Linked DNA regions of Homo sapiens: region 2 is linked to region 1. The links come from fine-mapping of genetic effects on gene expression. A gene starts in region 1. The other region holds a variant in brackets. All regions are shown on one strand. Distances are from middle to middle. Region 1 holds the start of ASS1 (argininosuccinate synthase 1). Region 2 overlaps HMCN2 (hemicentin 2).

The links. PIP is the estimated chance that this variant, and not a neighbour inherited with it, causes the effect.
Region 2: its variant is fine-mapped to the expression of ASS1 in esophagus mucosa (GTEx, PIP above 0.99).

Annotation. Positions count from the first base shown.
Region 1 is chr9:130,434,314-130,450,076 of GRCh38, reverse strand. ASS1 (argininosuccinate synthase 1) reads right to left here and starts at 5,116. Exons shown (of 15, transcript NM_054012.4): 1 at 5,082-5,116. It overlaps LOC124902349 (small nucleolar RNA U13), which reads right to left and starts at 221; the gene lies at 122-221. RefSeq lists enhancers at 2,309-2,976, 3,646-4,313 and a silencer at 5,194-5,313.
Region 2 is chr9:130,342,959-130,358,721 of GRCh38, reverse strand. It overlaps HMCN2 (hemicentin 2), which reads right to left. Exons shown (of 98, transcript NM_001291815.2): 26 at 11,362-11,556; 27 at 10,047-10,177; 28 at 9,591-9,738; 29 at 9,059-9,185; 30 at 7,145-7,299; 31 at 5,517-5,795; 32 at 3,678-3,959; 33 at 2,868-2,976; 34 at 2,465-2,634; 35 at 734-888; 36 at 236-332. Among named protein-coding and RNA genes, the nearest start is that of HMCN2, 85 kb to the right of the region's middle. The variant C/T (reference allele first, on the strand shown) is at 6,486.

The sequences.
Region 1 (15,763 bases):
CCTACCCCTGTTTGCGTGTGATGGCGCGGGTGGTGTGGTTGGGTTGCGGGAAATTCTGTTGTATGTTTTAAAACAGCTCTATTGAGGTCTACTTGACATATCATAAATTGCATTTTTTAAATATCAGATGGGTAATGTGCCAACATCATAACAAAGTTTGAGGGTGGCACCTCACACACACACGAGAATACCCAATCAGCACATTCATCAACTACAAAAATAATCGCATATTTTTTTGTGTCCAATTTAGCAAGTTTCGGCGTGCGGATGCGCCCGTGACATCAACACCACAATCAAGGGAATAGACATGTCCGTCTTAGGCTAAGCCCTTCCATCTGGGGTTCTCTTCATTTTAGAGTCAGGAAAACTGAGGCTTGGGCTGAGGAACTTGCCCTGCATCTCGTTTGACTGGTAGGCAGCAGAGCCAGGACTCCAACTCAGATCAGCTCGGCTCCTTAACCCCCTGCTCATAGGTACAAGACCACCACTGGAGACTCAAGGAAGGGAAGTCCTGGGCAAGTGTGATCTGATGATGCTGGCCCAAGATTCACCCAGCTCTGAGAGTCACCCCTGCTCCTGCCTCCTCCCAGAGGCACCTGGAGCCAAGAGAGGCAGCTCCACAGAAACACGGAGGGGCAGCTCCACAGAAACAGCTGGATCACCTGCATCGCCTCAGTGACCCGCCATGCCTCCTGCCCATCAGAGCTGTATCCTTTTTTTTTTTTTTTTTTTTTCAGACAGGGTCTCATTCTGTCACCTAGGCTGGAGTGCAGTGATGCAATCTCAGCTCACCACAGCCTCCACCTCTTGGGCTCAAGGGATCCTCCCATCCCAGCTCAGTGCCACCACCCCCAAGTAGCTGGGACTACAGGCACATGCCACCACACCTGCCTAATTTTTGTATTTTTTGTAGAGATGGGGTTTCACTACATTGCCCAGGCTGGACTCGAACTCCTGGACTTAAGCGATCTGCCTGCCTCAGCCTCTCAAAGTGCTGGGATTCCAGGCATGGGCCACTACATCCGGCCATCATGCTGTATTCTAACTGCCCTCTCCCCCACTATGAGCTCCATGGAAACAGGGACCATCTCCCAGATGCCTGTGGCAGGCACTTAGAACAATGCTACTAGTTCCACTCTCTGGAGGTCAGCTCCTCACCGCAAAAAGAGGGCTGGGGTGCCCTGAAGCTGTGGAGTCCTACACATGCTCTCATGGCCGAGCACAGTGGTTCATGCCTGTAATCCCAGCACTTTGGACGGCCGAGGTGGGTGGATCACTTGAGGTCAGGAGTTCCAGACCAGCCTGGCCAACGTGGCAAAACCCCGTCTCTACTAAAAATACAAAAATTAGCTGAGTGTGGCGGCACACACCTGTAGTCCCAGCTACTTGGGAGGCTGAGGCACGAGAATCGCTTGAACCTGGGAGGTAAAGGTTGCAGTGAGCCAAGATCGTGCCACCACACTCCAGCCTGGGTGACAGAGTGAAACTCTGTCTTAAATAAACCAAAAGAAACCAGTGAGCCCCTCCTGCCTGCCAGGTTGTAGCTGGGCAGGTGTGGGCTCTGAGGCCTTCAGCCTCTGGGGCTGGGCAGTGTGAAGCAATGCATGGACCTGGCGTGTGTACCTGAGACAGTGTGTGTGTGTGTGTGTGTGTGCGCGCGCACACACCTGTGTGCACCCAGGGGTGCGTACCTGAGAGTACACAATGTGTGTGCATGCATGTGTGTGATGTGTTTGGGCTTGCACATGTGTGCCTGTGTGCATGCACACGTGTGTGGGTGTTGGGGCCAGTGTATGCATGCAGAGAAATGAGCTGGGCAGATGGGCTTGGGAAAATGATGCAATCAGACAGCAGCGTTGCTCCTGCCCTCCCAGCAGCGGGTGGGGCACCCCCCTCCCTCAGCCTCCGCAGGTCCCTAAGCTGCATTTGCAGCCCGAGGCAAAAACTAAATGAAACTGAGGGTTTGATGTCGGGGGAGGAAGTGACAGGGAGAGAAGGAACCACAGCTGCAATCCAGTGAGCGCTCACTCCAGGCACAGGACAGAGGTCAAGTCCACCAGACATGGGTTTGAGTGGCTTCAGCTCTCTAGCATAACTGCTCAGCTGCAAAATAGGGGTGCAAACAGCCTGCTCCCCACAGGGCGACTGTAAGGATTGGGTGAGATGCTGGGGGAAGGAGCCCAGAGCTGGGCACCAAGCATGTATGTGCCCACTAAGCTCTGTGCACCGCTGCTATGGCTGACCTCAGCCAAGTTCCTGGCTTGCTAAGCCTCAATTTCCTCATCTGTACAACCTGACAGCCCTCTGGGTTCTGACCCTCCCAGACATTGGGCTTTCTTCCTGGGAGCTGCGCCTGGCAGGCAGATCCTGGCTGAATTCAGCCTCCCCTAGTCCCAGCTCCACCCCCACCACATCCCCCAGAAAGGGCCACGGCAGGTTTCTCCAGCTCCCTGGCAAATGCCCACTGCCCTCCAGCCCTCCTTCCCCGGAAGAGACACCTGGGAGGAGGGAAGGTGGCCTCGCGTCAAGGTACCAGAGCCACCTGGCTTTCATTGGGATGGCATTCTCTGTGGCCCCAGCCACAGCCATCTGTCCAGCTTCCAGCAAACAGGCCAGCCTGGGCGCTCACTTGACACTAAGGAAAACTCGTGCTACTTGAAAACGTCAGAGCTGGAATGACAACAAGAGCGGCTACTATGTTCACAGTCACAGGTGCATCCTCTCAAGGTGGAGACTGCCATTACCACCTATTTACAAAGGAGGAGGCAGAGGCTAAGCGGCCAGCCGAGGTCACAAGCTAGCGGCTTCAAACCCAGCCTGACTGCAGGCCACTTGCTCTTCCCTGCACTAGGCCTTCCACTCCCTGGCTCCTAGGAGACCTCAGATCTCCCCTTCACTCTACACACCTTCCAGAAAACCAGCCCCCCAGTGAGTCATGGCCAACCTGCCCACTATTTCTCTGGAGAGCCTGTGTGCTATAGCTCAGGCCTACTGCCCCGTGGAAGATTCCCCTGCAACCCCTCGCTGACATTCTAACTCAGCTGAGCTCGGTTTGTCTTTGGTGATGGACGAAGGGCACATTCATTCATTCGTTCCACTCATATCAAAGTGCCTATGGGTGCCTGGTCGACCCCAAGTCTGGGGAGGGAGCCACGCCCTGGAAGATCAACTTTGCCCAAAGCTACATCAGAAATCAGAGCCTTAGACTCTGAATTCCAGCGAAGTTACCTCTTTCCACATGGGTGCCTGGTGCCCACAGGCAAGCCACTGACTTCAGGGACTGTGTAGTCAGTGCTCAGATGAGGCATCTGGTTGACCTGGCTGGCCTCCCAGCAGGCCAAAGATGAGATGGGCCCGGGTTGGGAGGGGGAAGCGCTTGTGCAGCAGGCTGTTTTGGGCCTGGCTCCACCCCAAGGCTCCTGCGGCCCTGGGCCTGCTTCCCAAGCACTCAGGAATGGAGACTGTGCTGAGAGTGGGGCCTCCCCTTCCCTCTCACGACGTGTCTGCCCCCGCACCGGCCAGGCGCTCAGCAGGCAGGAGTCACTATTCATTCACTTGATCCACCCCCACAGAGCAGAACCAGAATTACTTCTCAGCATGGTGCACAGATGGCCCCGCCAGGACAGGGTCCCGCCCCCACCCCCAAACTTCCCCGCCCTAGGCCTTGGGCCTAAGGGGTCTGGGAGGGAGAGGGAGTTTGGAATGGAGACTCCTCCAGTTCCTGCTCCTAGCCAAGCTTCCCAGTCCGTGTGGCTGCTTCTCCCTCCCTCTCATCAGAACCTAACCCCAGGCACAGTTATTGTGCAATTGGACCCAGGCCCAGCACCCAACAGTCTACAGAGCCCTTAGCAGCCGCACAGTATCTGCAAATGTTTCCTGAGCCCTCAGCCCCAGCCAGCTCTAACAGACTGAAGCTTGGGGGCCAGGCACTTTGGGTGGCTCGAGCCTGTAATCCTAGCAGTTTAGGAGGCCCGAGGGAGGAGGGTCGCTTGAGCCCAGGAGCTCGAGGCCAGCCTGGGCAACATGACGAGTCCACATCTCTGATAAATTTTTAGAAAGAAAAGAAAATGAAAAGGAAGCTTGGGAATCTGGAGGCTGAGCCAAGGCCTCACCAGCTCTCCCCATCACTGGGTTTGTGCTTGCTGGGAGCGGGAGGATCAAAGCCCAAGTCCCCTAGGTCTTGATCTACCCCTGGGGAGAGAACAGGTCTGTTCCTGCCCTGAGACCTGCAGCCTGACTCGGCTGCTCGGGAGTGGACTCTCCACTTCTCAGAGAAGAATACTGAGGCCAGGCCAGCCCTCCTCAGGAACAGCCCTGGCCGCCTGGGAGAGGAGTTTCCTCTCTTTCACAATGACCCTGCCTCCCTGGAGGGCGCAGCCGCCCAGGGGCCAAAGGCAACAGCAGCCCGAATAGAAAATATTCCTGGCACTGCCCCTCCCACAGAGCCCAGCCCAGGCCAGCAGGAAACCCCGCCGCGAGGCCGCCAGCCCCACCGGGGAGGGCCAGGTGGCTGCCGCCCCCTGCAGGGAAGGGAGCCAGGGCCACCATGCCCATCTGTCCAGGGTAAACTGAGGCTGCGGGGAAAGCGATACGTCCAAGCCCCAGAGGGGCTGGACTCCTGGTTTTACGCAGAGAAATAGAGGTGGAGACAGACGGCGAGTCCGAGAGAGGGAGAGAGAATCGGGAGCCCCCCCACACGCTCCGGACTCCCCAGGTCTCCATGTGGGGGCTTCACGACACAGAGGAAGCCGGATCCGACAAGGAGTCCAGAAAGGACCCGGCTGCGCAGGGAACAAATAACCCGAGCCGCTCTTCGGACCCGGGGACTCGCGCCCCCGGGGACTCGCGCCCCCGCCGCGTCCCCCACGCTCCAGAAACCTGGAATCCGGTGCCAGGCGTTTGAGCATCGGGAGCCCCTTCCCTCCTGCCTCGGTCCCAGTCCCCGGCGAGTGGCGATCGGGGTCCGCCCTCTGCCTCCGCGGGCCCCGGGGCGGGCGTCTTCTACGCCTCCTCCTCTGGGCCCGGGAAGCGGGTGCTCTCGGCTAGGGAGTGGGCAGCGAGAGGGGCCGAGGGCTCCTTACCGGGCTCGGGCAGCGGTGGCAGGCGGCAGAGCAGGACTGGCAGGGGTGCCCATCCCAGGTTATAAGCACAGGGCCCGGGGGCAGGGCCGGTGACCGGGGACACGTGGCGGGGACGCGCGCCACAGACCCCGCCCCCGGGCCCGGCCCCCGCCTGGAGCCGCTCAGCGTTCACAGCCACCTGCAGATGGGCGGGGCCCGCCTCCCCAGGCCTCGTCCCCACCTCCCCCCGCCTCCCACCAGGTCCGGGCCTGGGCCCGGCGCCGGCTCACCCTCCCAGGGGCGCGCCGGCGGGGGCGCAGGCGGCTCGCGGTTCCTGGCCCTGGCCCGCGGGCTGGAGGCGCCAAGGAGGGCGGCAGTGGCTGCGACCCATGTAACTCAGGGGCGGAGGGTGGCCGCAGCCGTCCTTCGAGAGACTTGCCTCCTGGCCCTGGGGAAGCAATTTAAACGCTTCGCGGTGGGAGCCGGGATAAAAGTTCCACTGGCGCAGGGAGCTTCGTGCTCACTTCTATCCGGTGCCGGCAGCCTGGGCCTTCTGCAGCCCCCAGAGCCCCCTCCCTCCCCAACCATAGCCTCTGGTAGCCGAGTAAGGATGAGAAAACCGAGGTGAGCCGGCGCGGGAAGGCCCGGCTTTCATCCCTTAGGCCAGGGCTGATTGCTGGCCTGTCTTCTCAGAGCCTGGCACCTGCCCAGACTCCAGAGGGCACCCAGTAAGCAGTGAGTAAAAGACTGTCTGGCTGCGAACCCACTAGACAGGAGGGAAGGTTGAGGTTCAGAGAGAAGTCTCTTGCTTGTAAAAAGCAGCTGGGAGTTGTGACCCCAGGCCCGCCTTCAACAGCTTCTCTACCTCAGGAGTTTCCCAGCTTGGTCTGCCGGCTCCAAAGCCCTGATCACTGCAACCACAGCCCCAGTAAAAGAGCAAGTCCTGGGACCCCATCCAAGGCAGTTGCTCCATAGTGAGCACTGACCCCAGAAGGGAGGACTCCCGGTCCTCAGCCGGCTCTGAACCTGGGGGAGGTGGGAGCCCCAAGCCTTGCCCAGCCGCTACCCTGGAGTCAGTGCTCCTTTTAATCACCATCCACTCTCAGCCCCTCTGCCAGTCAGCCCCCACCACCCCCTCAAGCCCATGGCAAGCAACAGTAGCTGTGAGTCCTTCTAGAAGGAAAAAAGGATCAAACCAATTCACAAACAAAGCCACAGCTCGATTCTCTCTTAAGCCCCTTAGTTCTCTGACACTTAAACCTGGGATGTGGCCCTTGATGGCAAAGGGGCCCCTGGTGAGCCACGTGGGGCTGGGTGTACATGGGTGGCTTGAGGCCCCTTCTAGATGGGAGGCGGTATCACAGCTGGCCCCCCTCAGCCCTCTCACAGGAGCAGCTGGGGGTCTCGTGGAGTCTCTGGGCCTCCCACACTAGCAGGAGGCAAGTGAGGAACACCTACACAATGACACCCTTGCAGCAGTTGTGTGTCCTTGGGGCGGTCACTCCCCACTGCAGCCTGTTTTCTCATTGGTAGGGTCGCCCTGGAAAGAGCAAGCATTCTGTTTTCACCTTCACGACTACCCTGTATGAAGTACCTGTGATTGTTATCTCAATGGTATGGGCAGAAACCTGCTGCACAGAATGACGGTGTATCTTTCCCAAGGCCACACAGCATGTGAGTGGCAGAGCGGAGCTAGAATCCAGTGTCTGAAGCTCTGGCTCAAACCCTCTGCTTTAGCTCCAGCCTGAGCTGAACTGAGGTCACAGTCCCAGGGTCACAGGCTGCTGGGACCTTTACTCCTTGCCGCAGAAATGGTTCCAGCCTAGGGGACAGACCCTTCCTAACTCACATGCACCAGTGACATGAGGGACAGTGAGGTCACAGCGCTCCTGAGAAGAAAACAGGGGCCCAAACTGCCAGCAGCACCCCGCCCCCCACCCCCACCGTCCTGCCACCAACAGCAGGGTGAGTGGTTGCCCAGAGGCAGAGACCAAGGTGAGGGAGGACTGGCCAGCTTCTGAATGAGCCCCATTCTGCCTGGACCCCTCCATCGGCCAGGGGGACCTTCAACCCTGCCCTGGCCCTTACCCTGCAGAGCAGTGCTGAGGGCCAAAGTGGGGCGTGGCCCAAAGGGATTCCCCCACCTGAGACTGGGGCACCATGGCCTTTGACTTTCATCTTACCCCCTGCCCACACCTAGGTCAGGGGTCCTCCAGGAGCCTTTGCACCTTCTAGGTAAGTGATCTTGGTGGCATTCCTAAAAACAAAGCAGCACCTAGGCCTGAGCAGGTGGAGAAACAAAGGCACTGGGATCTGAGACACTCATACCTTCCTTTTTTTTTTTTTTTTTTTTAATTTGGAGTCTTGCTCTGTCACCCAGGCTGGAGTACAGTGGCACCCTCACTGCAGCCTCTGCCTCCCCGGTTCAAGCAATACTCCTGCCTCAGCCTCCTGAATAGCTGGGACTACAGGCCCGCCACCACACCAGGCTAATTTTTGTATTTTAAGTAGAGACGGGTTTTCACCATGTTGGCCAGGCTGGTCTTGAACTCCTGACCTCAGGTGATCAACCCACCTCCGCCTCCCAAAATGCTGGGATTACAGGTGTGAGCCACCGTGCCCAACAACATTCATATCTTCTAAATATATCAAGTCTGCCCCTTTCTCTCCACTTCCACTTCCTCCATACAGGGCCACCATCTTCTCTTACTGAGACCATTATAATTTCTTACTTAAGTCTCTTTGCTGGCTCCTCCACTTACCCTAGTTGCCCCTCCAACATTTCCTCCCCAACAGCCAGAGAGGTTCTGTTTGTTTGTTTGTTTAAGAGATAGTTTCTTGGGGTCACAGGTATGGGTACTCCAGGGCCCAGCTCTGAGATGACTAATTTATTGGACACCTTGGATGACTGGCCTGGTGGAGGCCTGTGCCCAGGCAAAGGCCTAAGTCTTCCATACAGTGGAGAGGAAGACCTGGTAGGTTGAGACATCTTTGATAGGTGGTATAAAAGTCCTCAGTTTCTTTTCTTTCTTTTTTTTTTTTTTGTATTTTTCACTGATATATCTTAGTTATACATATTTTGGGGGTACATGTGATGTTTTGATCCGTGTATACAATGTGTAATCATCAAATCAGGGTAAGTCTTCAATTTCAGTGGAGGTACCAAGAGATCCATCCTGGTTTAGATGTCTGAGCAATGTTTTATGTGTATAAGTTTTGCCTATCTTCCATCAAATTTACTTCTAAGAATTTTAATTTTTTGATGTTATCATACATGATATTTTTATTTTCCAATTGTTCCTGGCATATAAAATCAACTTTTGTAAATTAGGTTTATATTCTGCAACTTTTTTTAAATTCACTTATTGACTCTAGTAGATTTTTGTAAATACCTTAGGATTTTCTAGGTAGACAGCAATGTTGTCTATGAATAGAAACAGTTTTACTTTCCCCTTTATTACCTTTGTACCTTTTTTGCTTGCCTTATTGCAATGGTCAGTATCCCCAGTAGAATGTTGAATAGAATTGGTAAGAGTAGTTATCCTTTCCCTGTTCATGATCTTAGGGCAGAGGATTCATTCAGTCTTTCACCGTTAAGTACAATGTTAGCTGTAGGTTTTTCATAGTTTTTTTTTTTTTTTTTTTGGTCAGAAGAAGTTCACTTTTCTTCCTTATTTATTGAAAGATTTTTACATAAATAGGTACTAAATTTTGTCAAATGCTATTTCTACACCTATTGAAATGATCATATGATTTTCTCCTTTATTTTATAAATGTGGTGTGTTACATTGATTGGCTTTCAGGTGTTGAACCAACCTTGCATTCCTGGAAAAAATTATATCTCAAATTGATTTTTAAGAAAAAAAAGAAACAGAAGGGGAATCTTTGGGTTAAAAGAGCTATAAAAGATAAAATCAAGGCTGGGTGTGGTGGCTTATGCCTGTAATCCCACCACTTTGGGAGGCTGAGATGGGCAGATTGCTGAGGCCAGGACTCTGAGACCAGCCTGAGCAACATAGTGAAACCCTGTCTCTAGTCAAAATACAAAAACTTAGCCAGGTGTCATGGCGTATACCTGTAATCCCACCTACTCAGGTGGTTGAGGCACAAGAATTGCTTGAACCTGGGAAGCAGAGGTTGCAGTGAGCCAAGACAGAGATTGCAGTGAGCCAAGATTGCACCACTGCACACTCCAACCTGGGCACAAAACGTGCTCTGTCTCAAAAATAAAATAAAATAAATCACAATGTTTAGATCTCATTTAGATACTGATTTCTTTTAAGTGCAAAAGAAATATTTTTATTTTTATTTTTATTTTTATTTTATTTTATTTTTTTGAGACGGAGTCTCGCTCTGTCGCCCAGGCTGGAATGCAGCGGCGTGGTCTCGGCTCACTATAAGCCCCGCCTCCCGGGTTCATGCCATTCTCCTGCCTCAGCCTCCCGAGTAGCTGGGACTACAGGCGCCCGCTACCATGCCCGGCTAATTTTTTGTATTTTTAGTAGAGACAGGGTTTCACTGTGTTAGCCAGGATGGTCTCGATCTCCTGACCTCGTGATCCGCCTGCCTTGCCTTCCTAAAGTGCTAGGATTACAGGCGTGAACCCCCGCGCCCAGCAAGAAATATTTTTATAAGCAGTTGGAAGTTTGAACACTGATGAGATATTCAATAACAGCAAGACAGAATTACTATTGATTTTTTAGGTGTAATAATAATGATATTGTAGTTATTTTTCTTTTTTGAGACAAGGTCTCCTCTGTCTCCCAGGCTGGAGTGCAGTGGCACGATCTTGGCTCACTGCAGCTCCACCTCCCGGGCTCAAGTGATCCTCCCACCTCAGCCTCCTTAGTATCTGGCACTACAGGCACATGCCACCACACCTGGCTAATTTTTGTATTTTTAGTAGAGATGGGTTTCATCATGTTGCCCAGGGTGGTCTTGAACTCTTGGCCTCAAGCAATCTGCCTACCTCGACCTCCCAAAGTGCTGGGATTACAGGCATGATCCACTGCACCCAGCTTGTAGTTATATTTTTATTGAAAGATTTATAAAGTTTTAGAGCTATGTACTGCAATATTAATGAATAAAATGGTTTCTGAAGCAAGGTTTTGATGGTCCCCATGACTCTTAGGTTCAAATCTCAATGGCTGTACTTCCTCCTCTGCCCTTACCCACTATACTGCTGCTGCCGGCCTGGCTGTGGTTGTTTCAACGTGTCAAGCCCTTTTTGCCATGTGGTCTTTCCACACACTGCTCCTTAGTGATGCCTCTTATCCTTTCCCTCCCCCACCAGATCAGTTGCTTGTCATAAGCTCTGATACTGGCACAGAGCAGAGGGCTGAGGCCTCCAGCAAGAAAATGGAAGAATGTGAGCGCTCTGGTTCCTGCTGTCTCTCCCCACTGCTCTTATCTTAGCCTGGATGACTGTGACCTCTCACATGCACCTCTGCAGGAGACACCTCACCTATCCTCCTGCCTGTGCTCACCATCCCCTCTGCTCCATGCTCCACATTGCAGCTGGGGGCTTTTCTAAGAGTCAGCTCTGACCTTTTCTTTTTTTGAGATAAGTCTCGCTCTGTCGCCCAGGCTGGAGTGCAGTGGCACAATCTCGGCTCACTGCAATCTCTGCCTCCTGGGTTCAAGCAATTATTCTACCTCAGCCTCCAGAATAGCTAGGATTACAAGCGCCCACCACCGCACCTGGCTAATTTTTGTATTTTTAATAGAGACGGGGTTTCACCATGTTGGCCAGGCTGGTCTCGAACTCAACCTCAGATGATCCGCCCACCTCGGCCTCCCAAAGTGCTGAGATTACAGGCGTGAGCCACCGCGCCTGGCCTCAGCTCTAACTTTGGTGGCCACTTGTCTGAGTGGCTACAGGGCAAGCTTAATGGATGTGACCTCATCGAATGCCCCCAGCCACCTAAAGGCATAGATACAGCCTGTGTACAGAGCCCTGGAGTGGGCTTCCTCCTGCCTCCGTTTCTCGCCTCTGCCACCCAAGGGCTCTGGACCTGCTGGGCATGAAGGGGCCTGGGTGTGTAGAGACTTCAAGGATCTCACCCTGAAACCTCCTTGTGGTTGGCACCAGAAGCCACTTTGCCACTGCCCAAGCCTGGGCATTGGCCCTGGGAAAAGAGAGTGTCCTCCAGGCCAGACCCTAGGTTGCCAGTCCTCGCCCACAGGAACACAGAGTCCAGTTGTTGGGTTCGTGGAAAACCCACATCAGGGAGTTCAATGCCTGACCTGCAGGCCTGTTTTCCACCCCTGATGGTGCAAACAGACTCGCAGAGGTCAGGTGGCACCAGGGGGCTGGGCAGCTTGGACAGAGTCTTGGCCAATGACAGCTGGCAGCTAGAGAAAAAGAAGTGGCAAACACCCTTTTTGGATGGAAAATACTCTCTGGCTCTGGCTGTGGCTTGCTTGGGAGGGGCCTCCTCTGCTTGGTAACCTTCCTTAGGGGCGGGGTAAGCAGTTGGAGTGTAGGGGAGGAAGGGACTGGGTCAGAATCTACCTCCAAGGCCTGGTCTGCCTTGGGCTTTCTGTGTGACCTTGGGTAAGTCACTCCTTTCCCCCGGCCTCCGCTCCATAGCCTCAAATGGAAAAGGAGGGAAAAGTGGGGAGGCAGGGGGCTGAATAGACACTCCCTTTTTAGCTCCTCACATCTTGAATTGCCAAGGGCCCTTGTCTTCAGCCTGCCCCTGGCCCTCTCTCTCTTCCCCCTTCCTTGGAAAGTGGAGGCAGGGGAGCCTGGTGGTCAGAGCCCAGGACTCTGGAGTCAGATGGACCTGGGCTGAGTCCTTCTCTTCCCCTCCAGGCTGTGTGAGATAGATAAGTGGCTTCCTTCTCTGAGCTCTCCTTCTCTCATTTGTGAAATGGGGATGCTGTTTCTTGGCTCTGGAGCTCCTGGAAGGACTAAGTAAACCCAAGTTGCCGGGCACGGTGGCTCACGCCTGTAATCCCAGCACTTTGGGAGGATGAGACAGGCGGATCACGAAGTCAGGAGATCGAGACCATCCTGGCTAACACGGTGAAACCCCATCTCTACAAAAAAAAAAAAAAAAATTAGCTGGGCGTGGTTGGTGGCGGATGCCTGTAGTCCCAGCTACTCTGGAGGCTGAGGCAGGAGAATGGCATGAACACAGGAGGCGGAGCTTACAGTGAGCCGAGATCGCGCCACTGCACTCCAGCCTGGGCGACACAGTGAGACTCTGTCTCAAAAAAAAAAAAAAAAAAAAAAACCTCAAGTCTGTAAGACACTGGACAAAGACTTAACAAGTAGTAGTTTCACAAACATGGAAGGCCTGCGTGAGACTGGGAGCGGCCTGCAGGAGACAGCAGGGGTGAGAGAGGAGTGGCACCTCCCCTCTGTGGGTCTCCGCCTCTGCATCACCTCCACAAAGTCCCCAGCTCCATAAAAAATTAACAGCCTAGCGAAGAGCAGTGCTCCAGTTCTGACCCGTTGACCCCTGGCGTTGCACAAAGAGGGGCGTTCGGCCCAAGGAAGGCCCTCACAGGTGGACCCTGGACGAATAGGGTACAGGAGGGCCTGGGAAGCCCCTCCCGCACTTCTTCCCGCCTCCTCTAATCTCTCCACCCAGCCTGGACTTCCATCATCAGTAATTTCTGTGGTTTAAACCAGAGATCAGCAAACTCTGGTCTGAACTTGTTTTTGTAAAGCCTGCGTGCAAACTAAGAATGGCTTTTACATTTGTAAATGGTTGAAAAACATCAAAAGAAGAATATTTCATGGCACATGAAAATGATAATAAATTTGAAATGTAAGTGTCCACAAATAAAGTTTTATTGGAACACAGCTGTGCCCATCTGTTCATGGGTCCTCCGGGGCTGCTTTTGCGCTGCAATGGCAAAGGTAAGTCATTTTGACAGAGCTTGAATGTCCCGCAAAGCAGAAAGTACTATCTGGCCCCTAACAGAAAAACTTTGCAGACTGGTTTGAAGGAAACCTACAGTAAGAAGCATCCTGGAGAAGGTTCTACTGGGGCTGTTAGGTGGGAATCAAGAGTCCCAGTTTGACCATTAACCAGTCACACCTCAGTCAAGTGACTGGATCATGTTCCCTCCCTGTACCCCCCTTTCTGCATCTGTAAAATGGACACAGCGATTTTTTCTCTGTGTACCCAGAACAGCTCTGTTAAGACAGCCTGATTGTCGTTCATCTCTAGAAGGAACTAACTCAGACAACTTTCCTCATTGCCCAGATGAGAGGGAGGGGACAATTAGGGGGAGCTGACCATGTCACACTAAGTAGGAGGAACAGGGAGAGAGGCACTCTTTTCTTCAGAACCATATGCAAAAGACAACCTCTCTCTCCCAGAGGCTGTGTCAGGGGCAGCTGGCAACAAAGAGGCCACCAGGCAGGGGCTGCTGCCAGCCCAGGGAGAAGGGCAGGAATGGGAGGAGAAGGATAAACAGCCAAGCTCCGTTTCACCTACACTCCTCCCGAGACCCAGCACACTGGAGATAGGCCAACACGCAGATATGCATTGACTTTCTTAAAAACCATTTTCGTTAGAGATGGGGTCTCGCTCTCTCACCCAGGCTGGAGTGCAGTGGCCAAATCATAGCTCACTGTAGCCCCAAACTCCTGGGCTCAAGGGTCTTCCCTCCTCAGCTTCCCAGGTAGCGGTACTACAGGCATGCACCACCACACCTACCTATACATGTGCTCTTGTATAGGTCACTCATCAAAGCCAAAGTCCCTGTGGTGGCCCAAAGACCTCACAGGATCCACCCCACCCCCTTGACCTTTCTGTCTTCCCTTTCTCCCACCTCATTCATCTCCAGCCTCCCCAACCTCCTGGCTGGACCCTCCTGCCTGAGGGCCCTGACACTTGCTGTCCCCTCTTCTCCTGCCCTGACCGCCTATTAAAACTATCCCAGGGGCCGGGCACAGCGGCTCACATCTGTAATTCCAGCACTTTGGGAGGCTGAGGCGAGTGAATCACTTGAGGTCAGGAGTTTGAGACCAGCCTGGCCAACATGGTGAAACCCCGTCTCTACTGAAAATACAAAAATTAGGCCAGGCGCGGTGGCTCACGCCTGTAATCCCAGCACTTTGGGATGCTGAGGTGGGTGAATCACCTGAGGTCAGCAGTTCGAGACCAGCCTGATCAACATGGAGAAACCCTGTTTCTACTAAAAATACAAAATTAGCTGGGCATGGTGGTGCATGCCTGTAATACTAGCTACTCGGGAGGCTGAGGCAGGAGAATGGTGTGAACCCGGGAGGTGGAGCTTAAAGTGAGCCAAGATCGCGCCACTGCACTCCAGCCTGGGCGACAGGGCCAGACTCTGTCTCAAAAAAAAAAAAAAAAAAGACTACTTAGGAATTGTTGCACTACACTTCCATCCATCCATTCGTCCAACAAAGGCCCTTCCTGTAGATGAATTAGATGAATTATTAAGGCCAGGGCCTAGAAATGGCCCTTGCCTTCAATAATCCATCCCCCAGAAGGGGAGATGCTATCAGGAAAAAGATAGCTCAGAAGAGGACTGCAAGTGAAAGCCAGGGGTGAGCTGCAAAGGATACAAGATGACAAGCAAGCCATAAAGAAGCCCGCTGTAAGAGTCTATGACTGGAAAGCGACAAGAGTTAGAAGATAAAAATAGGCTGGGGTAAGCCAGGTGCAGTGGCACATGCCTGTAATCCCAGCACTTTGGGAGGCTGAGGTGGGCGGATCCTTTGAACCCAGGAGTTCCAGACCAGACTGAGCAACATAATGAAACCTCATCTCTACAAAACATTTAAAAAATTAGGCCGGGCGCGGTGACTCACGCCTGTAATCCCAGCACTTTGGGAGGCCGAGGCGGGCAGATCACCTGAGGTCAGGAGTTTGAGACCAGCCTGACCAATGTGGAGAAACCCCATCTCTACTAAAAATACAAAATTAGCCGGGCGTGGTGGCGCATGCCTGTAATCCCAGCTACTCGGGAGGCTGAGGCAGGAGAATCACTTGAACCCAGGAGGCGGAGGTTGCGGTGAGCCGAGATAGCACCATTGCACTCCAGCCTGGGCAACAAGAGTGAAACTCCAACTCAAAAAAAAAGAAAAAAAATTTAGCCAGGTGTGGTGGTGCATGCCTGTGGTCCCAGATACTCAGGAGGTTGAGGTAGGAGGATCGCTTGAGCCTGGGAGGCAGACATTGAGGTGAGCAGAGGTCACGCCACTGCACTCCAGCCTGGGTGACACAGCAAGATCCTATCTCAAAATAATAATAATATCACACTGGTATTTTCCTAAGGGAGTAGATATGAGGTGTTCTTGCCACAAAAATAAGTATATACAAGATGATGGGTATGTTTTAATTTTTTCAAGCCCACACAAAATCCAAATGGATATATTAATTGGTTTGACTATAGTAACCATTTCATTATGTGTATCAAAGCATCACGTTGTATGCCTTACATATATACAAAACATTAATAATTAATATAAAGGCCAGGCATGGTGGCATGTGCCTGTAGTTTCAGCTGCTCTGGAGGCTGAGGCGGGAGGATCGGGAGGCCAGGAGGTCGAGGCTGCAGTGAGCCACGATCATGTCATTTGCAACTCTAGCTTGGGCGACAGGACAAGACCCTGCCTCTAAAAAGTAAGAATTATTTTTTTTGCCACCGGCTGTTGCTGTCTTTGCAACACATTTACTCCTCATTTAATAGCCCCACAGCCCTATGGGGGAAGG
Region 2 (15,763 bases), 91 kb after region 1:
AGCCTGGGCGACAGAGCGAGACTCCATCTCAAAAAAAAAAAAATCCCGCCAAAAGGGACTACACAGCTATTGCTAACACTTTCATTTCAGGGCTTTCTACTTCCTCTGAAGTTAAGTGCACAACTATGACTGAAAAACCTCCTCCCCCTCCCTCGCCACACACTTCAGCCCCAAGGGTCCCCAAGGGATCACCCAACATGCTGGCCTGGGCCCTGCTGGTTACCCACGTCCTCACCCAAAACTTTCAGCGCCACTTCCCTCTTGCTCTCCCCAGCCAGGTTGGTAGCAGCACAAGTGTAGATGCCCTCGTCCCTCAGGTCCACCTTCTCAATCTGGAGGGGAGGGGGCAGAGAGTATGCCACAGGGCTGTCCAAGTGATGACGGGACATGGCGAGTGGCCAGGCTGCTGCCGAGCCCGGGGGCAGGAGCAGTGAGGCATGGGGACACTTTTGGCTCTGGAGGTAGAGTTATGAGCCAAGCACTTGGATTCCAGGGATTCGTCCGATCTCCAGGCATACCATTCCCTGTCCCCCCCACTGACATTTTCTCCCTCTGACAACTGAAGCTCCTAGGACCCGGAAGAGGCTGAGGCTCACCCTTTCAGGCTGAGAGGGCTCTGGGCCCTTCCTATGCCCAGCCTGCTGGGATTTGCTCAGAGTCTCCAGGAAGCCCCCAGAGCAGCCCCTCCACCTGTGCCCAGCTGGCTTGCCAGCCCTGGGGCCCCTGCACATACCTGTAGGTTCCCCCCAAAGGCTGCCAGGGCTACACCATCCTTCCACCAACGGAGGCTTGGGGTGGGCACCCCATCCCCTATGCACTGGAGGGTCACAGGCTGCAGGAAAGGAGCTGTGATGTTCTCACCCCCAATGATACTGACCGATGGGAACTCTGGGAAGGGAAAGAGTCAGGAAGAGCCCGAGTCAGAATCAGGAGGAGTACAGTGGGCACCCAGCAACCCCCTCGATGCCTGGGGGTGAGAAGGTGCCCTTGAAGGGCTGGCCAAAGGCTAGCATCTAGCTTCTGCCCACCATATCCCCTAGACGCATGGCTTAGGGGAAAGAGCTCTAGACTGGGAGCCAGCAGAGAAGTTATTCTCTTTAAAAATTCTCCCAACCATCTGTGCACCCATGCATCTATTCATGCATTTATTCATCTACCTATCCTTCTGTCTATCCATCCTTCCATCCATCCACCCACCCATCCATCATCTACCAATCCATCCAGCTAGCCATCCACCCACTCACCCTTCCATCCATCCACCCACCCATCCATCAATCCACTCATCCATCCACTCACCCTTCCATCCATCCATCCATCCCTCCATCCATCCATCCACCCATCCATCCATCTACCCACTCTTCCATCCACTCCCCCATTCATCCACTCATCCATCCACCCACCCACCCATGCATCCATCTACCCACTCATTCATCCATCCACCCACCCACCCATTCATCCATCTACCCACCCTTCCATCCATCCACCCACCCACCCATTCATCCATCTACCCGCCCTTCCATCCATCCATCCACCCATCCATCCATTTACCCATCTATCCATTTACCCATCCATCCACCCTTCTATCCACCCATGCTTCCATCTATCTACCCATCCATCCACCTTTCCATCCATCCATCCATCCATCCATCCATCCATCCATCCTCCCTTCTATCTGTCCACCCATTCATCCACCCTTCTATCCACCCATGCTTCCATCTATCTACCCATCCCTCCACCTTTCCATCCATCCATCCATCCACCCTTCTATCTGTCCACTCATTCATCCACCAACCCATTCATCCACCCACCCATCCATCCACCCACCCACTGATCTATCCATGCATCCTTATGTGTGCTGAGCATCTACTCTGTGGCCAGAACTATACTGGGCCCCTGGACACAGTCAGGGAAAGGCAGCTACCATGTTGCCCTCTCAAAGCTCACAGAGGTGGACAGTGGAGATGGACAACCAAATAAGCAATCCCAATGTAGTTGTTGGAGGGCTAAGGCATTGAGAGGCTGGGCAGTGCAGATGAGAAACATGGTAGAATCAAGGAAGGCTTCCTGGAGGAAAAGTATTTCAGGATATGCCTGAAAGATAAGGAGCTAGGCAGGCAAAGAGGAGGGAGAAAGTTCTGGGCAGAAGGAACAGCAAACGTAGACGAAGACAAGAGAAAGAGGGTTGATATATTAAAAGAACTAAGTGAAGTTCAGCAGATGGACAGAGAGGAAGCTGGGGAGAGGAGTGAGGCCTAGGGGCTGGTCAGGACTGAGGATAAGTGTGATAAGTGGCCCGGCCAGCCTCTCACACCTGCGTCTCTGTGGGGAACTGGGAAGTCCAGCCCAGAAACGCCATCCAGCAAAGACCAGCCCCGTGCCCTTCCAGGCCTGCCACAGCCCAGGCTCCACCCACCCCTGGCATCTCAGGCTGCCCACAGCTCCAGAACCCCAGGCGCCCACTCACCATGCACAGACACCTCCACCTCGGCCCCGGCAGTGCCCGCCTCATTGGTGGCCTGGCAGGCGAAGAGGCCTGAGTGGTCCAGCTCCACATGGTCAATGTGCAGTGTGGTCCCCTGCGAGGCCACCTGCACCCCAGCCAGCTCCTCGGCTGGGCGGCCATTCTGCAGCCACCTAAGGTGAGTAGGGAGGGGGGCGTGTCAACCTGAGACCAGGGAAGGCCAGGCCAGGCAGGACAAGCAGGAAACCTAGAAGTTCCTCCCACCTGCTCTCACCAGCCGTGGCTCCAGGCCTCTTTCCTACTCCTGGAAACAGGAAGCCTCTCTCCTGTCCACTTCCCCCCACAATCCGCAAAGCACACGCTCTCTGCCTACCCCCAGCCCTGGCCTCCACCACCCCAGACTCACTGGATAGTGGGTACTGGGGAGCCTGAGGCCTGGCAGGGAAGTTCCAGGGGCTGTCCCACGATGGTGGTCACCTGTCCCAAGCCTTCAGCCACCAGGAGCTGTGGGGGCACTGCAGGCAGAACACACTCCTGGGTGTTTGGAGCTGAGCAGCCACTGGCCTCAAACCCTCCCAAGTCCCCAGAGCCTTCCAAGCGAGGCCCAGCTGCACCTCACCCTCACGTCTCCCTATCAGTGGCCCTTCCTCCAGGAGGCCTTCCAGGGCCACCCAAGGCGGGTAAGGGGACACCCCGGGCTCCCCAAAGGCTTGGGCCTAATTATTTAACATCTGCCTCCCTGGCAGACTGAGGGCTCAGGAGTCCGGTTGGCCTTGTTCCCAGCTTCATTTCCAGTGCCGCTTGGGGTCAACACAGCACTAGGACCTGAGATGCTTCAGCAATGGATGGAAGAGCAGGCGAAGGCCCCACCCGCCCTGCTGGGACCATACCCACAAGCCGGCCTTAGGAAAGTCTCCGTAAAGGGCCATTCCATTGGCAGAAGGCAGAACGAGGTCCTCTGTCCTGGGTGACCCAGCCCAGGGTCCTGGGCACAGTCAGGGACCCTTGATCCTGGGGCTCCACCCTGCCCACTCCTAGCCCTGCCGGCCCCACAGCCCAGGCCTCAGCGTCCTCATCTGTGTCATGCAATGTGGGGACACTGGTTACTTCTCCCCACCCTCCCTCCACTCCAGGAGCTCTCTCGGGACAAGCACGCAGCAGGCCTGGGCAGACGTCCACAGCCCAGGCAGCTCTGAGTGGGGTGGGCCGGGCTCACCCTGAACCTCCACGGAGTACTGCAGGACGGCTTCCCCGGCAGGACTGCTGGCCACACAGCTGTACAGGCCACTGGATGCCTCCCCCGGGCTCTCCAGCCTCAGCACACTCCCGTCTGTCTCCAGCCGCGACTCGTTGCTCTCTGCCACGGGCAGCCCCTCGTGGTGCCAGGAGAGGGTGGGGGACGGGTGGCCTCTGGCCACGCACTCCAGCGCCACAGGCCTCCCAGCCACAGCCTTCACCACGTATGGTCTTCCACCGGCGCCCTCGATGGTAGGTGGGACTGGAAAAGAGGCAGGGGGCGGCTTGGGGACCACAGCTGGACGCTAGCCTGCTCTCATCTCAGCCCAACAGGCCCGCTGAAGCCCCTCACCGACCCCACTCCATGTGAAACACTTCCTTCCCTCACCTCCAGTGGCTGAACCCCTTGCTCAGACCCCGGGGCAGCATTCTCACCCTCCTCAGCCCCTGGGCGCGCCACCCCACCCCTGGGTGCTGACTGTTGCCTCTCCATCCCCGCTGCTACCCCGGCAAGCCCAGCATGAGTGGAAAGACGGCCGGCCTACTTGCATCCCCAGTGCCTATACACAGCAGGTCCAGTGTCTGCTGGACTCAAATAAGACCCCCAGGGCCGGGACAGAGCTCTGCTCCTGGAAGTCCCCTCCCTCCCTGGTCTCAGGAGGCAGAAGACTGGGGCAGACCTGAGCCCAGATGGCTTGGATTGGGGGGCTCCTAACTTAGCCAGCGATGGCCAAGGGGACCAGATGTTAACTATGCTTGGAGCCCATGGTGGCCACGCCAAAGGGGAAATTTCTCTCCTACCCTCAAGGAGACCCTCAAGTTGCTGAGCTGATGAAGCCATTACCAGGGCACAAGGGGCAACCGTGGCCTGGGAGATGCTTCTTAACCTTATTTGGGTGTAAGACGCTTTGAAAATTTAATGAAAACATACACATACACATTTTCTATTTCATTTCCTGGGGGACCTCGGGTCCCAAAATAAGACTCCCTGAGCTAGCGGCGGGGCCATCTTCAGAGGCTGCCGTGGAGCCCATGCAGCTCAGCTGCCCTTTGAGGTTCCAGTACCCAAGCCCTTTGCATCTTTGGAAGCCAGAGCTCCCAAAGTGACTCCCCACGGGGGGCCAGGCTGACCCCTATCAGCTTGCACGCTGCCCTCTCACACTTCACCGGGGCCCTGCTCAGACCCATCCAGAGCCACCGACACCCTTTCCTCTGAGTTCTCCTTCAAAAGTCCCCAGAGCCAAGCCCCTCAGGGCTGAGCTGATGCTGAGGTTCACAGCATGAGGTCTGGAGTCAGATCTGCCCGCGTAAGGACCGGGTTCCACCACCTCCTAGGGGTGTGAACCTGGGGAAACCTCTCTGCTCCAGAGCTTCACTGCGACCATCTGTAACTGGGGACATGAGAGCTCAAGTCCCTTTGCCAGCTGATCAAATGAGCTGATGCTGCAAAGTGCCCCTCTGGTCTAGCTTACAGAAGTGATGAGCTGAGGGCAGTTAATTATTGTGGTGGTCACAGGGTTCTGGGCATGGTTTAGTGAAAAGCCCCACACCATGAGGGGAGACCTGGATTCTACACTTAGCTCCGCCATGGCCTCCTAGACAGGCCCTTCCACTCCTGGCCTCAGTTTCCTTACAGGTATGAGGGAAGTCACATAAGCTGGGAGGACCCTTCTCCCTAGATAATGTCTTGGTCCCATTATCCTTTTGCCTCTGACCACTCCAAGTGGCCACCTAGCCTTCCTTTGGAGACAGGCAGGGGCCACCATGGCTGAGTCCCTCCCACTGCCCACCCCGGCTGCCGTGGCCCCTGGCTGCTCACCATAAACATCCAGCCTGGTGGCCTTCTCTGCGGCCCCCACAGCATTGCTGGCCTTGCAGGTGTAGACGCCGGCATCGGAGCTCTGGGCCCTCCCCAGCTGCAACTGCCGACCGCCCCTAGTGTAGACCACCTTGGTGCTGGTGGGGAGCAGGGCCCCGTCCTTGAACCAGGTGATGTTTGGGGTGGGCACTCCTCGAGCCTCACACAGGAGCTGCACTAGGTGGTCCTCCATGACGGCCACCTCGCCTGTCTCGTTGGAGCCCCAGATAGTGGGGGGCGCTGAGAAGGAAAGAGGTGGGGCTGGTCACAGGCAGCCGCTGAGGCCTCTGGCATCTTCCCCAGGGCAGCAGACTCATGCCTTTGGGCCACAAGACACACCACAGGCTTCCATTGCGGGGGCAGGGAAGGCATGGTGGACAAGGAGGGGAGGGGTCTGGGGACAGATGGGAGAGGCCAGCATGGGGACATGCTGGTGTGGAAGGTGCAGGAGGTGGGGGCGGGGCCACAGGCTTGGATTCTGGGCCCTGCTCTGCTCTAACATACTGGAAGACCAGGGGTGAGCCACTTCCCCTCTCTGGGCCTCAGTCTCCCCATCTGTGAAATGAGAGGCTGGACTAGATGAGGACTTCACACAGGGCTGGTCACTCACCACCGATGCTACCCAGGACAATGCTAGGGGCACATGGGCACAGCATGAAATAACTGCATCTCAGAATGGAATGGTTACGCCCCTCCCAAATCTCCTTCTATCCGGGTTACAGCAAGGAAAGGCTCCGTTTGGTGCTACTATGCATGTCCCTAACCTTTCTAGCACTTTCTACTCTCCGCTTTTTAGCACAGAGAGTGCAGATGCAGGCTGGGTGCCCTCTGCGGAGTCCACGCCTCGAGAATTTACAACATTGCTCTATGGGGTGTGTTTGTTTTTTCAGCTTCCTTAGCCAAGCGAAACTGGTTTTCTGCTTACAGTTT[C/T]GATATTAAATATCCTTTATAAGAATAAGGGATATTTAAATAAATGTGTTTCAGTGTAAGGAAGTGTGACTCATTTAAAGAAAAGTAAATCATAATTCCAAGTGGTATCAGAAGTAGTAAATTTGGGCCAGGTACAGTGACTCACGCCTGTAATCCCAGCACTTTGGGAGGCCAAGGCAGGAGGATCACTTGAGGTCAGGAGTTCAAGGCCAGCCTGGCCAACATGGTGAAACCCCACCTCTACTAAAAATACAAAAATGAACTGGGTGTGGTGGTGGGCACCTGTAATCCCAGCTACTCGGGAGGCTGAGGCAAGAGAATCACTTGAATCTGGGAGGGGGAGGTTGCAGTGAGCCAAGATGGTGCCACTGCGCTCCAGCCTAGGCAACAGAGAGAGAATTCATCTCAAAAAAAAAACATAAGTAGTAAATTTTTAGAGCTGGGATGGAAACCACGGATTTGGAAAATGCTGGGCCAGATAACCTCTATCCCCTGACCCTGACCCCAACCCCGACCCCAGCCCCCAGCTTTCTTGGACTCAGGGATCACTCACCAGGTCCCCCATTTCAGCCCTCACTCTCCCTCTAAGGCAGCGGGCAGCTGGGTGGGAAGCTTCCTGAGTAGCCTGTGGCGGGGTCCCAGAAGGCGTGGGGGCTCACCATGAACTCGGAGCTGGAAGTCCCTGGCCTGCTGACCAGCTGGGCTGAAGGCCACGCACTGGTATCGTCCCTCATCCCCCACGTGACTGCCGGTGATCCTGAGAACCTGGCCATCCTCCTGGACCTGCAGGTGAGGGCCTCCCGGAAGGACAGGCCTGGAGAGACGGGCAAGGGAAAAGCGCCAGTAAGGCCGAGGGGCTGGATGGGACACGCTGCACACAGGGAGTGTGTGGCTTGTAAAAAGCGAGGCTGGGCCATTCATTAGCGCCAAGAGGTGGGAGCAATGCAAAGGCCCAGTAAGCGAGGAATGGATCAACAACGTGTGGTCCGTCCATGCCACGGAACATTATTCAGCCACAAAAATGAAGGCAATTCTGACACTTGCCACAGTATGGATGAACCTGGAAAATATGCCGAGTGGAAGAAGCCAGACACAAAAGGCCACACACTCTATGATGCCAGTGATGTGAAGTACCCAGAACAGGCACGTCCATAGAGAAGGAAAGCAGGCTTGTGGTTGCCAGGGGCTGGGGAGAAGGGGACAGCGACTGGCTGCTGATGGGTCCAGGGTGTCCTTTTGGGGTGATGGAATGTCAGGAACTAAATAGAAGTGAAAGTTGCCCCATGCTGCAAATGTACTAAATGCCACTACACTGCACACCTTTTTTTTTCCTTGAGACTGAGTCTTGCTCTATTGCCCAGGCTGGAGTGCAGTAGTACGATGGCTCACTGCAACCTCCACCTCCCGGGCTCAAGTGATTCTCCTGCCTCGGCCTCCCAAGTAGCGGAGACTACAGGAGACTACAGACTACCGCCACCATGCCCGTATATATATATATATATTTTTGTATTTTTAGTAGAGACGAGGTTTCACCGTGTTAGCCAGGATGGTCTCGATCTCCTGACCTCGTGATCTGCCCACCTCAGCCTCCCAAAGTGCTGGGATTACAGGCGTGAGCCACTGCACCTGGCCCACTGTACACTTTAAAATGGCTAATTGTATGTTACGTGGACTTTTTTTTGGACGGAGTCTTGCTCTGTCACCCAGGCTGGAGTGCAGTGGCTTGATCTCAGCTCACTGCAACCTCCACCTCCTAGGTTCAAGTGATTCTCTTGCCTCAGCCTCCCAAGCAGCTGGGATTACAGGCGCCTGCCACCATGCCTGGCTATTTCTTTTTTTTTTTTTTTTGTATTTTTTTGTATTTTTAGCAGAGACAGGGTCTCGCTGTGTTGGGCAGGCTGATAGCTCCTGACCTCAGGTGATCTGGCCGCCTTGGCCTCCCAAAATGCTGGGATTACAGGCGTGAGCCACCACACCCAGCCCATTATGTGAATTTTACTTAGAGAAAAAGTGAGTTTAAAAAAAGAGGCTGGGCACGGTGGCTCATGCCTGTAATCTCAGCACTTTGGGAGGCCAAGGCAGGAGGATTGCTTGAAGCCAGGTGTTCAAGACCAGCCTGGGCAACAAAGCAGGACCCCATCTGTACAAACATTTTTTAAAAAATTAGCCGTTGTTGGTAGCGCACACCTGTGGTCCCAGCTATTTAGGAGGCTGAAGTGGGATGATCTCTTGAGCCCAAGAAGCCCAGGAGTTTGAGGCTGCAGTGAGCTGAGATCGTTCCACTGCACTCTAACCTGAGCAACTGAGCAAGACCCTGTCACCAAAAAAAAAAAAAAAAAAAAAAAAAAGGAAAGGCTAAGAGATGAGAAGACTTTGCTGAGGTAAGAGTGGGGTCTCCCTGGCTAATCTCCTGCTGGGTGGGAGGCGCCCCTACAGCCCTCAGTCTGGGCCCTGGGTGGCACATGCCATGCCTGTCAGCTCCCCAAGAAGAGTTCAACCTTCCCCAACCCCCACATCCAGCAGGCTGAGTCTGGGCACCACCACACGCCATCCTCGGGGAGGGGGGCACTCACTGCCTGTCCTTGGTCCACTCCACCTGGGGCGTGGGGACCCCTGAGGTCCAACACTGCAGCTCCACGTCTGCACCGGCCAATCCTAGCACCTCCTGAGCGGCCCCGGCTCCAAGCACGGAAGGAGGGGCTGGGGGTGAGAAGGCGTGAGGGGTGGGAAACTGTTCAAACCCTGCAAGCCCCGCCTACCACGGGGCCTTTGTCTGTGCAGACCCCCCAGCCTGGGCCCCCCTCCTACCTGACCTTCCTGGGAAGCCCCCCAAAACCCTGGCCAGAAGGGCTTGCTCTGGAGCCCTCAGCACCCAGACTGTTCTTTGGTAGCACTTGTGACAGTAATGATTTTGCTATTCACCTGTCTGATGTCTGTCCCCCAAGCCTGATAGCTCTGTGAGGATGGGGGTTGGGTCTGTCATGGGTCCCTCTGTGCCCCCTGCTCTCCGCAGGCAAAGTCTACCCTCTCCCCCGGTGTGCCTGCAAGAGTTGGGGCTACAGGGCCAGACACACTTGGGAGTTACAGGGCTCAGGTCTCACTCACTGAGCACAAGGAGATGGAAGTCCCTCTGGGCGGTGCCAGCCTGGTTCTCTGCCCGGCAGGAGTAGAGCCCAGAATCACCCTCCTGGATCCTGGGGAAGTGGAGGGACTGGCCCTCGTCCAGGAGGCGGTGGCCGCCCACCTTAGGAATCTGGGTAGGAGAGGCCAGAGGGAGCCAGTAAGAGGGGATCCAGCCACCACCCCCAGCATCAGTAATGAGGAAACTGAGGCCCGAGAGGTGGCCAGTGGCCAGAACGGTGCCATGCTCTCTGCCACGCAGCCCCTGCCAGGCTTCACTACATGACCACTATCCTCCACTGCCGTGAACCCCAGAGCACCACCAAAGACACCTGTCACATCTCCCTGCCCCACCTTGGCACACGCAGAAATGCCCATCCAGAAGACCTGTCCCCAGCCTAAATCCCACCCATACCCCGCCCACCCTAGGGGGACACCCACCAGCTGCGCGTCCTTCAGCCACACGATCTCAGGGACTGGAAAGCCGTTCGCGTCACACTCCAGCGTCAGGGACTGCCCGGCCATACCCGACACGTTGGCCTTGCGCCCGTCCTCCCGGATGCTGGGGGGCACTTGGGGGCAAGGAGAGCCGAGGAGCTGCTTCCCTGCCCCCTTAGAGCCACAGCCGAAGGGACCTCATCTGGGCCATTCCCTCCCCTTCGTCACTGGGGTTGGAGAAGGTCTGCCTGTCCCCGTCCGCCCAGCCACAAAGGGTCCTGTGGACCTGCAGATGGCCGCAGCAGCCTTGCCCTGGGACCCACACACCCCCAGTCGTGCCCAGGCCCAGGTGTCACCCTTTCTGACTCTCAGCTTTGCAAGGTGCTGGAGTCCCCTTAGATCCATCTGGTTCTACACCCAACCTGGTGTCACAGTGACCAGGGAGGGTCCCCCTGAGTGAGAATCTCTGAAGGTGAGGCCTGGCCACGCTTTTGTAACAAATGTCTTGAGCAAGTCATTACAGGGCTAGCCAGAGCAGCTGGTCCTGGGGAAGCAGCAGGTGGCGTTAGGAGCTGGTAGAACTGCCCAAGCGGGGCCAGTTCATCCTGCCGACAGAGACCACTCCCCAGCCCACCCACACTGCCCGTGTTAAGGAGGGGTTCCTTTCCTCTGCACATAGCACCCTGGATGTGGGGGTGGGCGCTCTCCCTGCTGAGGACAAGAATGTGAGAAGAGACCAGGGGTAACAGTTTTAACCCGGAGGTGGGCTCTGGGGCTCTGCACTGCCATCCGTGCTCATTTTTAAAAATAATTTTTTAAGTTTATTTTATGTAGAGACAGGGTCTCTCTCTCCCAAACTGGTCTCGATCTCCTGGGCTCAAGCAATTCTCCTGCCTCAGCCTCCCAAAGTGCTAGGATTACAGGTGCAAGCCACCATGCCCAGCCAAGGGGTCATTTTAAAATGCCTTCACCTCTAGACCAATCTCAAAGACACTGATGGAATTCCAGGTGCTTCCCCCATACTGTCTCCGTGGGGGTCTCTCTAGGGAAGTGGGGTGTACAGTGCAACCTGCCACTCTCCCAGCCCCCTCAAGCCCTCCCTGTCACTGGCACCTGGTGGCAGGACCTGATTCTCCTGTGTAGGAAGCTTTCAGGCCCCGGGGAACTGGCACTGCCACACCTGGGCACGCCGTGGTACTGTCAGACCCCCGGCTTCACTGTGGGCCTCTGGCCGGATGCGGTCCTGGGAGGAAGACAGGCCCGTCTCTGGGTCCCTGCCGCTTTCCTCTCTTGCCCCCAGCTCTGGGTCCCTGCTCACCATAGACCACCAGCTTGGCTCTCCTGGACGTGGAGCCCACCTCGTTGGTGGCCTGGCACTCGTAGTCTCCACTATCCGCAGGTGAGACGGAGGCCAGGAACAGAGACCCCTCCTCCAGCACTGCCACACCTGGCTGGCCATGCAGGGGCTCCGAGGACGGGCCCTTCCTCCATGTGACCTGCGGCTTGGGCGTTCCTGGCAGGGTGCATGGAGTCATCAGTACAAACACCCTGACACCTTCCCCTCCACACCTGCACTGTCTCCCACATGTCTCTCCTGTGCAAAAGGGGCTGACGGTCCAGCGATGACTCCAGGCACCTCCGTCCCCCCGAGGCTGGAAGGAGCATTTCCCTCGGAGCCGTGGGAGCCCCCACACCCGCCACCTACCCACACTGCCCATCCATACAGCCTCCTAGGGTCCCTGAGGGACCAAGGCGGGGACTGCAGGCCTGTTTTCTGGTTCTCTTCACAGCAAGTCCCCAGTCCCCTCATTTAGAATTGCACCCCAACAGGCACCCCCAGCCCCTGCCCTCCCTGCTTTTCAGCCGTCGTCCTCCACTTTCCAGTGATCAGAGGACGCGTCTATGCTCCAGGTCTCTGTTGTCTCTTTTCCGTGTCCCCCACCCGACGAGGGCCAGGCTCTTTGTTTTTTTCCCTGCTGCCACCGCCAGCCTCTAGCACAGTGCCCGGCACACAGTAGGCACTAAATCAATGAACGAGCCAAGCCTGCCGTGCTCCAGCACCCTGCGTTGTGCCCTGGGGTTAGGGCCTGTGGGAGGCCCCAATTCTGCTCAGCCTGCTCCTGCTCCTCCCTCCACAAGCCTGGGTCAGTCACTTTGCCAGCCACAACCCCCAGCCCCACCGTGAGTGCCACACCCCCCTGCCTCCAGCCCCACCGTGAGTGCCACATCCCCCAGCCCCTTGATCTCTAGGACACGCCCCATGTTGGTCTGTGCACACAGCCTGGTACACAGTAGGTGTGCCAGAAACAGCTGCCCACTGGGCTGGAGTGGAGCTTTCATTCACGGGCCCCAAGGACAGAACCTGCCCAGAGGGGGTCCTATGTGAGCTGAAGCTAACAGCCCAGTCCTCCAAGTGACCCCTTTGAGGCACACTGCCCAGAGGTCGCAGCGTGAGCCCCAGGCACACACTCTGCTGCTGCCATCCTGGCCCTAGCTCTCACCTGCCCCCTGACCTCCGCCAGCGCTGACTCAGGGGAGCCTGTGGGGTCCCCACACTTGCAGATCGGCACGTCACTCCCACCCGCCTTCTGCTGCTACCGCTGGTCATCAGGACTGTTGTAGCTAACACTGATTATCATCAGAAAGGGCCGCCCCTGGCAGCGGGGGCCCAGGGGTAGACACTTATGCTGTGGGCCGCTCACTCTTTCATCCTTGGAAGGACCAGTAAGCATGGTGGCGGGGAAGACATGGCATGTGGAAGGCACACTGGCATCATCTCTGCAGGAGGCTGCCCTGCCCCCTCCGCCCTACCCTGACCGCCCACCGTAAAGTGCCAGAGACCCTCCCTGCTGGCATGAGGGACAGGGAGGGCCCAGGGCCCTGCTCCATGTCCACCCACGCTCTGGGTGTCCTTGGGCAACTTACTGAATCCCCCTGTGCCCGTTTTCCTCTGGAATCCTCTGCCCAGAATGCAGGCCAGAATGTCCCACCGCCAGGGGCTGCTACCCCCACTCCCCACTGTGGGGATACACACCACACACACACAACACGATACACACACCACACACCACACTACACACACGAAACACCATACACACATACCACACACAAACATACACACCAAGCACTACACACACCACATACTATACACACCAAACACCATACACATACCACACATGACATACATACCAAACAACACACACACCACACCCTATACACACCACACACCACATACACACCACATACTACACACACCACACACCAACATACACACACAGCACACACACACCACACACTACACATACCACACATACCACATACACACCACACACCACAAACATACACACACACAGCATACATATCAAACAACACACACACCACACACCACGTACACACCATACACTACACACACCACACACCATACACATACCACACACAACATACACACTACACACCACACACCACACACAATACATACCACAAACCACACTACACACACCACCATACACACACCACACACAATATACACACCAAACACTGTGCACACACCACACACCACACACAATACATACCACACACCACATACACACCATGCACTACACACTACACACACCACACACACAACATACACACCAAACACCATGCACACACCACACACACACCAAAACTATACACACCACATACACAACACATACAACATATACACCAAACACTACACACTACACACACCAAACCACACACACAACATACATGCCAAACACCACACACACACACACACACCACATACACCAAACACCATACACACACCACACACACAACATATATACCAAACACTACACACACCACACACACCAAACACCACATACCACATACACATCACATGCTACACACCATACACACAAACACCATGCACACAAAACACCATACACACACACACACCACACATTCACACATACGCACCACACACTACACATCATACACACACACTACATACACATCAAACAACATACACACACCACACACAAACATATACACCAAACACCATACACACATCACACACTACACACAACACCATACACATACACACAACATACAAACACTACATACACACCCCACATACCAAACACCACATACCACATACACACCACACACTACACACCACACACACCACATACATACACCACACACAAACACCATGCACACCACACACACAACATACACCAAACACCATATATATAGACCACACACACACAGAACACATACATGCACACACCAAACACTATACAACATACATGCCAAACACCACACACACACACCACATACTACATACACACATCACATACACACAGAACACATACATGCACACACATCCCACACATGACACATACACCACATACACACACTACACATTCGCACACTCACACACATGCACACCCCCCTCTCATCTTCCTCAGCTTTCCCCTGAGAGCCCCTGTACTTCCCGCCACGCCGGGGGCCAGGCCTTCCGAGCTGCAGGTCGGGAGGGGTGATGGTTTCTGCTGTGGAACCTTGTTTACCACAATCTCAGCCTAAAGTGCTCTAGTGCAGGACGGCCCTGAAGCTCTGTGACAAGGAGGACAAGGAGATCCCCGGGCACCAGCTGCTGCCCAGGGTCCCTCACGCCGCCCCCTCCCCACTGTGCAGAGTCCCACACACCACACACACCACCAAGTGGGTGTCCAGGCTCTGGGCCTTCACGCCCCACCCCACCCCACGAGGAAGAGGCAGATGGTGTCACTGCAGGGCCCAGGGAGTCCCCATGAGGGTGCTGGGCTCAGTCCCAACCCTGTAGCCCTCAGAGCGCTCCGAGCCCAAGGCCACAGGGCTGTGAAACAAGGCCCTCCTGACCAGGAAGGAGGCCGGGGCAGCCCAGGCGGCAGGCCTGGTGGGGAGAGGCAGTGCTATCAGAGGGGATTTGGGTGAGGCTGACAGGCTCAGGACTGGTCCCTGACTGACCAGGGCTGTGTGTGGCAGTCAGGGGCTGGGTGGGTCCCACCTTCCACTGTCTCCCACCTCCCAAAAGCGCAGAACGGCTGCTTGCTGTTAGCAGAATCCAACGCAAGGTGGCGCCATAGTCAAGGGCCGGGGACCTGGGTCGGGGAGGGTCGGGGGGCCAGGTGGGCAGGTCGGCAGCTCTGCACCTGGGGATCCAGAGGGGCTCCCAGAGCTCCCACCCAGGTCCTCCCCTTGCCTAGGTGGGTGCCATCCCTGCTTCTACCTGCCTCTCCCTGAGTCCTTTTCTGGGGCCTTCCAGGGCGTCCTGTGGCTCACAGAGCAACAACCAAGACTAGAGACGCCCCCCAGGCTCCTGTCAGGCTTTGGTGACCTGCCACTTGCTACCAGACACCAGACAGCACCCTCCAGAGAACCTCAGCCCCACAGAGGGGAGGCGGTGCTCCCAGCCATGCAGGAGCCCAACGCCGAAAGAAGCAACTGAGGCAGTGGCGGGGGCTGAGGAGGGATCTTCTGGGTGGGGCCGTGGGGTTCACAAAAAGGCAGAAGCCAGGCATCCACCACATTTCCTGAGCCCTCCTAAGATGCCAGCCCTGTGCACGCGTGGGGTCCCACTGAGTTCCCACAGCAGCTCCATGCAGAGGGGCTGGTACAACCCCGCTGTACAGACAGGGAAACTGATGCTCGAAAGGAGATAGAAACTGTCCTGAGTTACAAAACCAGGAAGG